2 linked regions of the Homo sapiens genome follow. The protein of the gene in region 2 interacts with the protein of the main gene of each other region in a pairwise test. Each region holds a gene or a part of one and is shown on either strand. Other genes may lie near its edges.

The links. Proteins that work in one complex are often made in the same cells at the same time.
Region 1: the proteins of TULP3 (region 2) and BACH2 interact in binary tests that used the Homo sapiens proteins (3 or more experiments, as listed by UniProt).

Annotation. Positions count from the first base shown.
Region 1 is NC_000006.12:89,943,834-89,950,865, forward strand, and holds part of BACH2 (transcription regulator protein BACH2), read right to left. Parts: coding exon 6,437-7,032; intron 1-6,436. UniProt on the Homo sapiens protein: Transcriptional regulator that acts as a repressor or activator. Binds to Maf recognition elements (MARE). Plays an important role in coordinating transcription activation and repression by MAFK.
Region 2 is NC_000012.12:2,928,889-2,935,920, reverse strand, and holds part of TULP3 (tubby-related protein 3), read right to left. Parts: intron 6,957-7,032; exon of another isoform or gene 6,896-6,956; intron 5,674-6,895; coding exon 5,576-5,673; intron 4,885-5,575; coding exon 4,681-4,884; intron 2,504-4,680; coding exon 2,391-2,503; intron 1,475-2,390; coding exon 1,360-1,474; intron 1-1,359. UniProt on the Homo sapiens protein: Negative regulator of the Shh signaling transduction pathway: recruited to primary cilia via association with the IFT complex A (IFT-A) and is required for recruitment of G protein-coupled receptor GPR161 to cilia, a promoter of PKA-dependent basal repression machinery in Shh signaling.

The sequences.
Region 1 (7,032 bases), on a different chromosome or scaffold from region 2:
CACATTAGCATGATACCCTGAGACACTGATGGTGTGGTCAGCTCTCCGAAGTCTTTAACGCCTGTACTCTGAGGAGACCCTCAGATCCCAGGGAGCTGTCGAGGGAGGAAGCAATATGCCCATTGGAGATGATTCCAGTGCTGCTGGAACCAGGACAGCCAGCTCAGTGCTGGGCAGATGGCAATGACAAAATCTCCCCTCCCAGGTGAAGAAATGTTTCTCGCGCAATTGTCCTTCCACGCCCTCTTCTCATGGTCCAGTTTCTAGCACAAATATGGGACACCTGGGATTCAGTTGTGATACGTCAATTAATTAGTTGTGTGATCTCAGGCAAGTCTTCATTCTGTCTGTCCCAAAGTTCTTGGAGGATCTAGGAGTCACAGGGCGATAACGCCTGCCCTACTTAGCTTACAGGGTTGCTATGAAGAATACAACTGGATGACAGGTGGAGAAAGTGCCTGGGAAAGTTTCAACTGCCTGATAGATACAAGGTATTATTATTTCTGTTTATTAGCCCTATCTATCTCTGTCACATGGTTTCGTCTTACAGACATGTGCTTTGGAATTCCAGACACTTACAATGTTCTAGACAACATAAAAACACTGTTTTAATTAGAAATATGGCTGATTTCTATGCTGCCCAGCAAGGTTTCTTTTTATTAAGCAGACCAATTACAGACACTTCTAAAAACTTGCCTGATTCACCAAACCACAAAAATGATTGTGAAAATTTTACATACAACATGTGTCTCAAAGTCAGCATTGGGGTGGGAAGAGTTAGAGTCAGATGGCTCTTCTATTCTGTACCATTTCCATGTTTTCTCTGGACTTTATCTCTCTCTTCCCTTCTCTCTCTCTCTCTCCCGCCCCCTGCCTGCCCCCAACACACTCTCTTACTCTCATACACTTTTATCTCTCTCAGTGTAAAACATGTTAATAAAGCAAGTCCAAAAATCCATACTTTTGACTGTGCAAAGAAACTCTCTGTGGTGCTTCTTTACTAAAATCTACAATTAAGTAGAAATGGTCCAGTTACAAAGCTGTCTTACTAAGAGGCTTACTACTTTGGAAAATGACTGTAATTTTCTATAATTTCCAACATCTAAAAACAAACCTATAAACCATAATGAGATAAACCATAACTACTCACACCCACTAGAGGGCACTAACAAAAAAGATGGGCAATAACAAGTGTTGGCGAGGATGCAGAGAAACTGGATCCTTGATACACTGCTGGTGGGAATTTGAAATGGTATAGCCACTTTGGAAACAGTCTAGTAGCTCCTCAAAAGGTTAAATACAAAGTTATATGATTTAGCAGTTCCACTCCTAGGAATATTATGGAAATAACTGAAAACATGTCTTAAAAACAACTTGTACTCAAATGCTCACAGCAGCATTATTTATAATAGCCCCAAAGTGGAAACAACCCACATGGCCCTCAACCAATGAACAACAAAATGTGGTATTAGTCAACAAAATGGATCAACATTATGGAATATTACTCAGGAATTAAAAGCAACAAAGTACTAATACATGACAATATACCTGGTGAGTACATCAATGGCAAGGGTAAACCTTCAAAGCATTATGCTAAAGTGAAAGGAGCTAGACACAGAAGGCCACATCTTGCAAGATTCTATTTATACAAATGCCCCAAACAAGTACATCTACAGAGATAGAAGGTAGATTACTGGTTGCCTGGGGCTGAGGGGAGTGGGCAATGAGGAGTAACTGCTAATAGGTACAGCATTTCCTTTTAGGGTGGTGAAAATGTTTTAGAATTACATAGTGGTGATGGTTGTACAACATTGTGGATATATCAACAACCACTGAATTGTTCATCTTAGTAGGGTGGATTTTATGATATGGGAATTATGTCTTAATTTAAAAAATAAACCTGTGCAAGATAGACATACATAAAATTCAAACATTACAGACATACATAGAAATGAAACTTTCCCTACACTCCTCTCCAACGGTGCTCCCAGTTTTTTCTTATTCTCTATGCTGATTTTATTTATATGGTGTGTATATTTAGGAAACAAACTAGGACCTTGTGCATACTGCTTTGTGATTTTCACTTATGTGACTTGTTCATTTTTTTTTACTGGAAGAGAAAAATTCCCAACCTGACTTCTTAAGGAATATAGCAAATCCAGAAGTCATAAAGAAAAAGACTTATACCTTGACTACATAAAACTAATATTTTTTTATATGGGAAAAGGTACAATAAATAAAGAAGCAGACTAAGGGAATATCTAAGCAACATTTATGAGAAAGGGTTAATATTCCTAATATTAGGGATTAAGATTCCTACATGTTGATTTAAAGTTAAACAATACAAAAGAAAAATAGGCAAAGAGGTAAACCAGCAATTCACAGGAAAGGAAATATAAATGTTCAATACACATAAAACAAGATGTCAGCCTCATTAGTAGTCACCATTTTTTTGCCCATCAAATTGGCAAAAATTAAAAAGACTGGTGACAACTAGTATGGGCAAGAATAGGGGAAATTGGACACTCTAAGTTGCTGATGAATATGTGAATTGCTACAACATTTTGGGTAGGTCATTAGGTAGTATTTAATAAATGGGCACAACCTTTAGCCCATCTTTGAAACTAACCCACAAAAATAAATGCACCACTACTAACAGTAGGGTCACAAAATGTTTATTGCAGCAATGTTTATCAGAGGGAAAAACTGAAAACAACTGAAATGTCTGGTGATAAGTGACAGCTGAATGAACTACGATTTACGAGAACGAGAGATATTGGAGAAACATGTCTTGGCCCTGTGTGATCGACCTACAGCCACGTGCATGGTAGACAGCTACGTGAAAAAAGGAAGCTGCTAACTCTACAACATAATGCCATTAAAATAAAACCCAAACCCATAGAGAGGTGAATATATATTTGTATATTGTTGTAGGCAAAGAGAAAGCCTGTTAAATTTGGTATGTTTGGGGCTGGGTATGCTGTGTTCTAGAATTTAAAAAAGAATGTCATTTTAAAAAGCTGATTATTGATAAAGGATAATACTGCGCTAATTTGATCTTTCTCGAAGCCAGGGAACAGTTAAAAAGGATGGGAGAAGCCAACGACTGTGAGATGGAAGGGCTGCTTAACACGGTATAACTACAACATCTTACAGAATACAAGGTATGTTAACACTTCACTTTTGGTCTAACGTTTTGGCTCCCTACGGGGTGGAGGAAGACAGATTGGGAAAACACACGCGAAGTATTACACTGGCGTCTGGCAAGGGGTGGAAACTCCTGTCTTGATTTCTGACTCTGGTGTCTCCGTGGGGTTCACTTGAAAGAGAAGGCACCTGGATCCCATATGAAAGCAGGGCAGGGCAGAATTAGCCCAATAGATGCTGGCTTCTTCTGGATCAGTTCAGGAAAACAAGTTTTGACTTGTGGAGAAGGATCTGCCTTGAGCACTATTACTGGGGATAATACTTCAACCAGGGTCAAAGTAACTCCCTAAAGCAGGTTATCAACTCCTCGAGCAGCAGTCATGGCAAGTCCCTGAGACAGTTCTTGGAAACCTAACCTCCTCTACTCTAGGAAAACTAAGATGTCAAATTGGGAAAAACCTTAACTTTACTGTAACTGTCCTGTCCAAACTGTACCACTGAGAGGGGCTATGTTTTCCAAAATGGCATAGAGCTTTGGTAAATGTCTCTTCTTTCACTGTTCAGGAATGCAGAAGATGGATTTTTCTTTCTTTTTTTTTTTTTGAGACAGAGTCTCGCTCTGTCACCCAGGCAGGAGTGCAGCGGCGCGATCTCGGCTCACTGCAAGCTCCGCCTCCCGGGCTCACGCCATTCTCCTGCCTCAGCCTCCTGAGTAGCTGGGACTACAGGCGCCCACCACGACGCCCAGCTAATTTTTTTTTTTGTATTTTTTAGTAGAGACGGGGTTTCACCGTGTTAGCCAGGATGGTCTCGATCTCCCGACCTTGTGATTCGCCCGCCTCGGCCTCCCAAAGTGCTGGCATTACAGGTGTGAGCCACCGCGCCCAGCCATGGATTCCTTTTTTAAAGGTAAAAATAAGAGTATTTTTAAAAGTAGCGGTATTTCTCAAGGGGGGAAGGCTAGTCCTGTTCATGACTATTTTACAGGTTGAATGAGTCCTCCTTTTAATTGAGTTAATATTTTTAGTTCTAAAGTAAACAACTGACATGGTCCCAACATACACACAAAAAATGTGTTCTTGCTGTGGCCCCAAGACTTTAAGCTCTCTTTTGGGATATTGGCGGCGAGGGTGGGGGGACACAAAAGAAGATGTATCTGAAACTGACAGTTCTTTGAACATATGCAAATGTCATAAAAACACCACCCTCCCTTGAGCTTAATGGCCAGCCTTTTATTTTTTTTTGAGACAGGGTCTCACTTTGTCACCGAGGCTGGAGTGCAGTGCCACCATCTCAGCTCACTGCAACCTCCTTCTCCTGGGCTCAAGTGATCCTCCCACCTCAGTCCCACAGGTAGCTGGGACTACTGGCACGAGCCACCACGCCTGGCTATTTTTTTATATTTTTGGTAGAGATGGGGTTTCACCATGTTGCCCAGGCTGGTCTTGAAATCCTGAGCTCAAGTGATCCACCCACCTCGGCCTCCCAAAATGCTAGGATTACAGGCCTGAGCCACCATGCCCGGCCCCAGGCTCCTCTTAAAGGAGAGACAAAAAACAAAGACTGCAGGCCTTTGTGCTCTTCTCCCTCCACCAGTCCTTGGTAGGAAGCCATGATGCGGATGAGGTGGACGCAGTGACTTGCCTTCCACATCAGGCACGCTCATTCACGGTTTCAGAACAAAAGGAAAACCTCACAAAAGAGGTCAGAGGGAAAGAATGAGTGAGGAGAGAGAAAACACAGCCTTTCACTATTTTCGGGAAAGCTCAATCTTCCCAATGTCAGGGACACAGATGTGAGCCTGGCTTGGGGCACTGGGCACAACCCACCACCCCAAACCTAAGGGGAGGTGGTATATTCGCATGGGAATAGCTCCCATTCATATTTCCTTTCTAATTTATTTTAAATTAAATCCTTGCAGTGTTTCTCTTTCTCCATGTCTGCTAGGCAGTTAAGAGAGGGGCAGAAACCAGGCTAGCAAGCAAAGAAAGTGACCACAGGGCATTTTTGCAGTTGGCACAGGGGCCTTTGGCATCTATTTTCAAAACACGCCCAAACTAAAACCTCATGTGCTTCTCGCCAATCTTGCAGAGGCTGAATAAACTGCACGTGGCTCTGTGAAAAGCCACCTCATCCCGTATGGCATTTCTGCTTTCTGGCTGGGTTAACATCTCTGCCTTACAGAGGCTGGTAACATCCAGAGAGCACAGATGGGTACCAAGGTTGCCGGCCTCAGGAGGACCATGTTTCATTTCTTCCTGTGTTTTTGGGATACACAGCTCTGAGAAGGGACTTGTCACTGGGTTTGTTCAATCCCGCTCCTGAGGGGGGTCTGAGACACAGGTAGCAGTCTCAAGCTGGTACCTTGTCAATCAGCAAGACAGTGCAGTGAACGCCAGGTCACGACACAGACTCTCTCAGGTCTTTCTAGGGAATGTTCATGTTATTGGGGAGGTGGGTCCTCTGCAGGGGCCTCTTCTTTCCTCTCCTTAGTCTTGTGAGTCTTGCTCACGATGTGGCTGCTGTTGCCCCTGTTCCCCTCTTCCAGCAATGGTAAGACACACATGGAGCCTCTGGACATTTTTCCTAGCAAGTACATTGCTTTCAGGGTGGATGAAACTGCTACTCTACCCCACTACTTCTCAAAATGTCTTCCTAGCATTTGAGGGAGCTTGGGAAATGATCCATTATACATTATGTGTGGCTGACTAGGGTGCTTCTGTGATGACCCCAGGACCGGGATAAACGGTGAGGCTTCCATCACCTTCACTGTGATGGACATGGGATGGCCCTGGGGTCTTCTGTTGACAAGGAAAATCTAAAAGGTGCTGGGAGAGTGTTGATCTATTTGGTTTCAATCAATCAATCTGGAAAGAGATTCTATATCTTCCTTTACGCTGAACGGGTGAAGGGCAAGGATGAGGGTGATGAACATGGCATCCTTTCAAAGCAGGTGTAGGAGGGGGAGAGAGGGAGGAGAAAGAGGGGGGTCTGGAGTGCCTCAGTGTACTTCATGCATTAGACTTCAGTATATTTTTACTCAGCAGCTTGCCTCTGCTTGTCGAGTATTGAGATCCAGATCAAATATCAAGTGCTTTTCTAGGACAGAAGTGGTTAATGTGGAATCACCTTCAGCATCCTGCCTCTGTGGATGGGGAAGGCAGTCTCTCTACTGTCATCTTTAATCTTAGCACGTAAGAACAATGTGGGAGTGGTGGGGGGCAGGGAGTAGTCCAGATAAAGGGCCTAGAGAGTGGGTCACATGCTTGAATTTATGTGGGTTCCCTACCTCCTGGCCCCTGTCCTGCACAGGACACGACTCACTGTCTGCTTCCGAGAACGATCCGGATTCGTCACTGGAGTTGGTTCCATAAGACTGCTCACATTTAATTTGGGGCCGCACTTGGTTGTACATTCCATCTCCCATCAGGCCTGGTTCCTGATGTTCTGTGGCAAGGAATCTGGCTCCCTGGGAACAGGGCGAGGAGGAGAACTCACAGAGAGGGAGGCTGCAGGGTGAGCCCCCGCTCCCGTCCTCCGCGTAGGAATAGGAAGAGCAGGAGCTGGAAGTCCTGGTCCTGGTCTCCAAGGGGGGTGAGCGAGGGCAGACTTTGATTGGTACCGGGCAGCTGGTGTTGGGCCGCATCCTTCCTGGCAAGTGGTCGGCCATCAGCCCACCGTGGGAGTAGGCCTGCGAGCTGGGGAGGGACTGGCCGGCTCCCACCCACAGACCCTTTGGCACCGGCTCAGAGAGGTCTTTGTCCAAACTGCTCACCCCAGAATAAGAATGCACCGAGGTGCTCACTTGGTCACAAGCGCTGGAGGAGAAGATCACGCTCCTCCGGTCCAGCTCTCCCTCCTGTTTACAGAGAGCCTCCAACCCAG
Region 2 (7,032 bases):
ACGGCTCACTGCAGCCTCGACCCTCCTAAGACTCAGGTGATCCTCTTGCCTCAGTGCCCCCAGTAGCTGGGACTCCAGCGACTGCCACCATGCCCGGCTAATTTTTGTATTTTTAGTAGAGATGGGGTTTCACCATGTTGCCTAGGCTGGTCTCTCCTGGGCTCAAGTGATCTGCCCACCTCAGCCTCCCAAAGTGCTGGGATTACAGGTGTGAGCCACCAAGCCCAGCCAAGCCAAGCAGATTATATATGAAAGCTATAGAGGAAAGACACCTTACATTAAAGTGTGAAGTCAAATGGTTCTCAGGCATGTAGATAAGATCTCATGGGATTAATTTCAACTTAAGAAAGTTGAGACTTTGGAATAAAAAAACCAGCTGAGATGGGTCAATTCCTTCTTGCTTTCTCTTACTCAACAACTCTTTGAATATCTACTGTGTGCCAAGCCATGTGCTAGTATGGATATAGCCATGAGTAAGAATTCACAAGTTTACAAACTGGTGGAAACGGTTCATGTTGAACAAGTAATAACAAATACATGTGGGTTACAAATGCTACAAGGACGCAGATGAAGGAATGTCAACCACATCTAGTGGAGTACATCAGAAAAGACTTTGATAAGGCAAAAGGCCAGAAAGAGGAAAAGGGAAGCCTCTCCAAGGAGGAAAGATGAGTGTGGTTGGACAAAGGAATGACAGGAGGGCTGCTTGGCTAGAATGATGGGAAGGAGGGGCATGCCAATAGAGAAGTCTGAAAGCAAATGCTACCATGTTAGATCTCACACAATGGGTAGTCACTAAAAGATTTGAAGCAGAACAGGAGGATCAACTGGAGCCTCGTTGTAGGAAGATTCATTTGGTGGCAGCAGAGAACGAGCTAGATAGTTCTCAAGCCTTTCCCGGGTGTGAAATGAAATGAAAAAGGACAATAAAACAAATAATAATAAGATACAATTTAAAAAGAAGTGGACTATAAATGCCAAAAAGAGGAAAAAAAATAAGAAAAAGAGATTAAAAAGAGAAAAAAGAGAATGAACTAGATAGGAAAAGATTAAAAGCAAAAAAAGATCAGCTTTAATTTATTGTAACCTTTGGCCACTGGGTAAGAAGTAAAGGTCTGAATTAAGTGGCAGCAGGAAAAAAGAAAAGGAAATAAGGGAAGAAATGTTCTGAGAGTGAAAAATAATTGAACTTGGCAATTCAAATAACTAAAACTCAAATACATGGAGAAAATGGTACAGCAACAGAAATCACAGAAATAGAAACAAGCTTGGGAGGGGAGGTTCTTCAGCGACACTAGGTGAAAAGTGCCAGCAGGACACCAGGAGGGCAGGCAGCGGCCCTGGGAAAGCAGCACTCACATAGGAGATGGCAGCCAGCTCCTGCCGGGTGTGGGCCGCTCCTACCAAACCCCGGCCCTTCATGGGGCAGATGCCACGGTCATAAACTGTAAACTTGGTCCCCATGAGGTTGGATCTGGAGTCAGGAGAAAAAGTCACCATGATGATCTGTATTTTTTTTCTTATACAAACACAATCTAAGAGAAGGAAAATGGAAGCCTATTTGCCTGTTTTCCAAATGTCTCAATGTTCATCATCACTTTTTCAAAAATATCTCATTAAAGCAAGGAAGGAACTGAGATTTTCTTTTAACTTTTTATTTACTTACTAATTCGAGACAGGGTCTCGCTCTGTCGCCCAGGCTGGAGTGCAGTGGCAGGGATCATAGCTCACTGCAGCCTCAAACTCCCAGGCTCAAGTCATCCTCCCACCTTAGCCTCCTGGGTAGCTGGGGCTACAGGTGAGAACTGCCACGCCTGGCTAATTTTAAAGTTTTTTGAAGAGATAATGTCTCAGTGTGTTGCCCAGGCTGGTCTCAAACTCCTGGCCTCAAGTGATCCTCCACCTCAGCCTCCCCAAATGCTGGGATTATAGGCCTGAGCCACCACACCAGCCTTATTTTTTTATTTTTTTGAGACAGACTCTCATTCTGTTACCCAGGCTGGGGTGCAGTGGCACTATCTTGGCTCACGGCAACCTCTGCCTCCTGGATTCAAGCAATTCTCGTGCTTCAGCCTCCCGGGTAGCTGGAATTACAGGCTGTTCTACCACACCTGGCTGATTTTTGTATTTTTAGTAGAGAGGGAGTTCTGCCATGTTGGCCAGGCTGGACTCCAACTCCTGACTTCAAGTGATCCGCCCGCCTTGGCCTCTCAAAGTGCTGGGATTACAGGTGTGAGCCACTGCGCCCAGCTTTTTTTTTTTTCCTTTTTCTTTTTTTTTAAGATTACAACATCAATACATGCTAGTTGTAACCAAGATAAGGACTGTTCTGCAACTATAGGAATAAGACTATCAGAAAGAATAGGACAGTGATCTAAGGTTGCTTTCACCTAAGCTTGCCGACATAACTTTCTCCTTCACGAGATAAATCAACTGGATCAATGGAGATAAGGTAGTTGGCTGTTTTGCTCTTTTTCCGCTTTCTAGCTGCAAGAAGAAATATCTGGGAAAAGAAAAAGTGTCAGTCAAAAATGAAGTCCAGAGAACCTGCCCCACCTCTGGTCATGGTTGTCCTACATATTCATTCAGCCAGTGCTTAGCAAGTCCTCAGCATATGTCAAGCTGTTAATCTTTGGGCCTTTATCCCTTTCTCTAACTCTCTTATCAGAATTCACTATCAGGCAGGGTGTGGTGGCTCACGCCTGTAATCCCAGCACTTTGGGAGGCCGAGGTGGGCAGATCACAAGGTCAGGAGATCGAGACCATCCTGGCTAACACCGTAAACCCTGTCTCTACTAAAAATACAAAAAATTAGCTGGGCGTGGTTGCAGACGCCTGCAGTCCCAGCTACTCAGGAGGCTGAGGCAGGAGAATGGCATGAACCCAGGAGGCGGAGCTTGCAGTGAGCCGAGATCATGCCATTGCACTCCAGCCTGGGTGACAGAATGAGACTCTGTCTCAAAAAAAAAATAAAAAATAAAAATAAAATAATTCACTATCAGGGTTTTCTTCCTATACAGTTTTTCTAAATTCACTAGCTTGATTCTCCATATAATTAGTTACAACTTCATCCCTAAAACTTCCAGTTAAAAAAAAAATCTCCAAAGCTGGGCCAGGTGGCATGAGCCTATAATCCCAGCTGCTTGGGAGGCTGAGGTAGAGGGATCACTGGAGTCCAGGAGTTCAAGGCCAGCCTGGGCAACCTTGCAAAATCCAATAAATAAATAACAATCAATGTTCATCCAATGCCATGATTAAGAGTCTTTCCAACCTTAGGAGAGACAGGATCCTGAAAACCTTCCCATTCTTTACTGTGATGGCTTTTTTTTTTTTTTTTTTTTGAGATAGGGTCTCACTCTGTCACCCAGGCTAGAGTGCAGTGGTGCAATCACAGCTCACTGCAACCTCTGCCTCCCAGGTTCAAGTGATTTTCCTGCCTCAGCCTCCCGAGTAGCTGGAACTACAGGTGCATGCCACCACTCCTGGCTAATTTTTTAATTTTTTGCTAGAGGCAGGGTCTCCCCATGTTAGCCAAGCTGGTCTCGAGCTCATGTCCTCAAGGGATCCACCTGCCTCAGCCTCCCGAAGTGCTGGGATCATACGTGTGAGCCACCGCACCTGGCCTGTGATAGCTTTCTTCATGCCATGGGGACACAGACAGAGGAATGTCAACCACATCTGGTGAAGCACATCAGGAAAGACTCTGATTAGGCAAAGGGCAAGAAGGGACAAAAGGGAAGCCTCTCCAGGGAGGAAATACTCTTTTTTCTATACTGCTGTTGTGTTAAACCACTGTGACCTCAATGGCATGAATACCATCCTATATAGGCATCCTTCCTAAACTCTCCTAGACTAGGACCATAATAGGGAAGCAGGAGAGTGGCAGTGGCTAAGCAGGAAGACTTTAGAATTATGCAAAATAGGTTTGAATTTGGCTCTGCCACCACTTAGTGCAACGTGGGGTAGGTAAGTCACTCCCTAAGCCCCAGTTACCTCATCTTTAAAGCAGAGGTAAGAAATCCTACCTAACAAGGTGGCTGCAAGGATTACAGGTGATAATATATATAGATATATATGCATATGCTTGGTCTGTCGTAAACACTCAATAAATGGTGGTTAGAAGAATTAACACCTAGTATCATTATCTTATTTCTAGGCTCTTAAAATCATCTGTTAAGACCTGGTATTAATACAAAATTAATAAAATAAAGTTCATCGCTGGCTCAAACTTATAAAATAAATTAGAACTTCTAGGGTGAGAAACAAGACATTTAACTTGTAGGTCCTTCTGTATTTCTAATTCCTCCTATTCCCTAAAACTCACTCTCCTTCCACAATGTCATGTTCTTCCGTAATAAAAAGAAAAACCAAAAGAACAAACAGTAACATTCAAAAACTCAATCATGGGAGACAGGTGAAAATAATTACATTAACAACTACCCGTCCATTTTCCCACTTCGTGGATAAAGCTCTTATTTGTGGGAGGGTAGAGCTTGCTGCCTATTAGACCATGAGCTCTTTGCAGAAAATGAGAACACAGCATCTGGGGACTGAAAGATACAATCTACTTCCAGCTGGCTTGGTCTAATACCAGAGTTAGTTCCCTAAGGCCCATCAACAATCTATTCCCACAACATTCTTCTCTCTCTCAAGAGTTTTCTTAGAAATCAATTCTCATACCTTCTGATTTTCTTCTTTTTCCAAGTACATATAGTAGGTGGGGAAGAGACCCCGATCCATTCCCCTTTTATCCCGGATTATCCGACATCTTACTGTGACACCTTGAGGGGCAGGACTATACACAAAGTCCTCCAGGTCGTCTATGTCTCCCAGGAGGTTATCAGCTGGTTGGGCGGCAGTAGCAGAACCGGAAGTGCCTGTATCCTGAAAGGACAGCCATACATGAGCAACAACAGGCCGAGACTCAAAATCTGATTCTCTTTGAAAAACACTTAGTGGACAAAGCAACTTAGTAATTTACCCGTGTCTTCAGTCTTCTGACAGAATGAGGAAAACTGAAAAGTTAAATTAAGTATATGAATATTGAGAGTAATGAAGAGTAAGTATCAAAATGGGACAAAGCCTCACAATAGCTGACCTGAGACAGAAAAAATTAGATCATAAACTAAATTTGAGCTTACACTTCTGAAGGAACCCTCACTCAGTAATGGTATTTAAATACTGAAGATATGTTTGAGGGCTGGGCACGGTGGCTCATGCCTGTAATCCCAGCACTTTGGGAGGCTGAGGCGGGCGGATCACGAGGTCAGGAGATCGAGACCATCCTGGCAAACATGGTGAAACCCTGTCTCTACTAAAAATACAAAAAATTAGCCGGGTGTCATGGCGGGCGCCTGTAGTCCCAGCTACTCGGGAGATTGAGGCAGGAGAATGGCGTGAACCCGGGAGGCGGAGTTTGCAGTGAGCTGAGATCATGCCACTGCACTCCAGCCTGGGTGACAGAGCGAGACTCCACCTCAAAAAATACATAATAATAATAAATAAATAAATACTGAAGATATGTTTGAGAAAGAGTCAAATTAGCTCTAATGGAAGAAGTTTCAGAACTACATACGGTTGAATTCTGGCTTGATGCAGAATTGGGTCTTTCTAAACATGCTGACTGGGATATTCCATCAGTCTCCTCATCGAAGTTCACACTTTCAGAGATATCTAGCAGAAAAGGAAGAACTGTTAGCACTGCCAACACTGTTTAAAAAAGGTCTTTGAAACAAAGATAGTTTTAATTTTCTTGCTTAAAACATTCTTAACTATTCTGACCGTAAACACAACTATTTTGTCCAAATACATAAAACAGGCAAATTCATAGAGACAGAAAGTAGAATAGAGGTTACTAGGGGCTGGGGGCAGGGGAGAATGAGGAATTATCTTGAATGGGTGTGAAGTCTCTGGGATGATGAAAAAGTTCTGGAGATGGATGGTAGTGATGGTTGCACAACATTGTTAATACACTTAATGTCACTGAATCTCACACTTAAAATTGATTAAAGTTGTAAATTTTAGGCAGGGCAGGCTGGGCGCGGTGGCTCATGCCTGTAATCCCAGCACTTTGGGAGGCTGAGGTGGGCAGATCACGAAGTCAGGAGATTGAGACCATCCTGGCTAACATGGTGAAACCCCATCTCTACTAAAATACAAAAAATTAGCCGGGTGTGGTGGCACGCACCTGTAGTCCCAGCTACTCAGGAGGCTGAGGCAGGAGAATCGCTTGAACCTGGGAGGCGGAGCTTGCAGCGAGCCGAGACTGTGCCACTGTACTATAGCCTGGGAGACAGAGACTCTGTCTCAAAAAAACAAAACAAAAAAAATTTAGGCAGGGCACAGTGGCTCGTGCTTGAACTCCTAGCACTTTGGGAGGCTGAGGCAGAAGGACTGCTTGAGGCCACCAGTTTGAGACCTGTCTCCATAAAAAGTTTTTTTAAAAAAATTAGCTGGTCACGATGGTACCTGTGTGTCTGTAGTCCTAGCTAGCTGAGGTGGTTGGATCACTTAAGCCCAGGATTTTGAGGCTAAAGTGAGCTATGCTTGTGCCACTGCACCCCAGCCTGGGTGACAGAATTACACCCGAACTCTTTTTTTTTTTGAGACGGAGTCTCGCTCTGTCGCCCAGGCTGGAGCGCAGTGGCGCGATCTCGACTCACTGCAAGCTCCGCCTCCCGGGTTCACGCCACTCTCCTGCCTCAGCCTCCCAAGTAGCTGGGACTACAGGCGCGCGCCACCATGCCCGGCTAATTTTTGTATTTTTAGTAGAGACGGGGTTTCACCGTGTCAGCCAGGATGGTCTCTATCTCCTGACCTCGTGATCCGCCCGTCTCGGCCCACCCGAACTCTTAAAAAAAAAAAAAGTGTACTTTTTGTTATTTGGAAGGGAAGGGAAGGCTTCAGTAAAAACAGGAAAACTTGCTAGACAAATTCTAAAAAGAGCTGCAGCACTGGTAAATTATTATGATTTTTTGAGATGGAGTCTCACTCTGTTGCCCAGGCTGGAGTGCAGTGGCACCATCTCAGCTC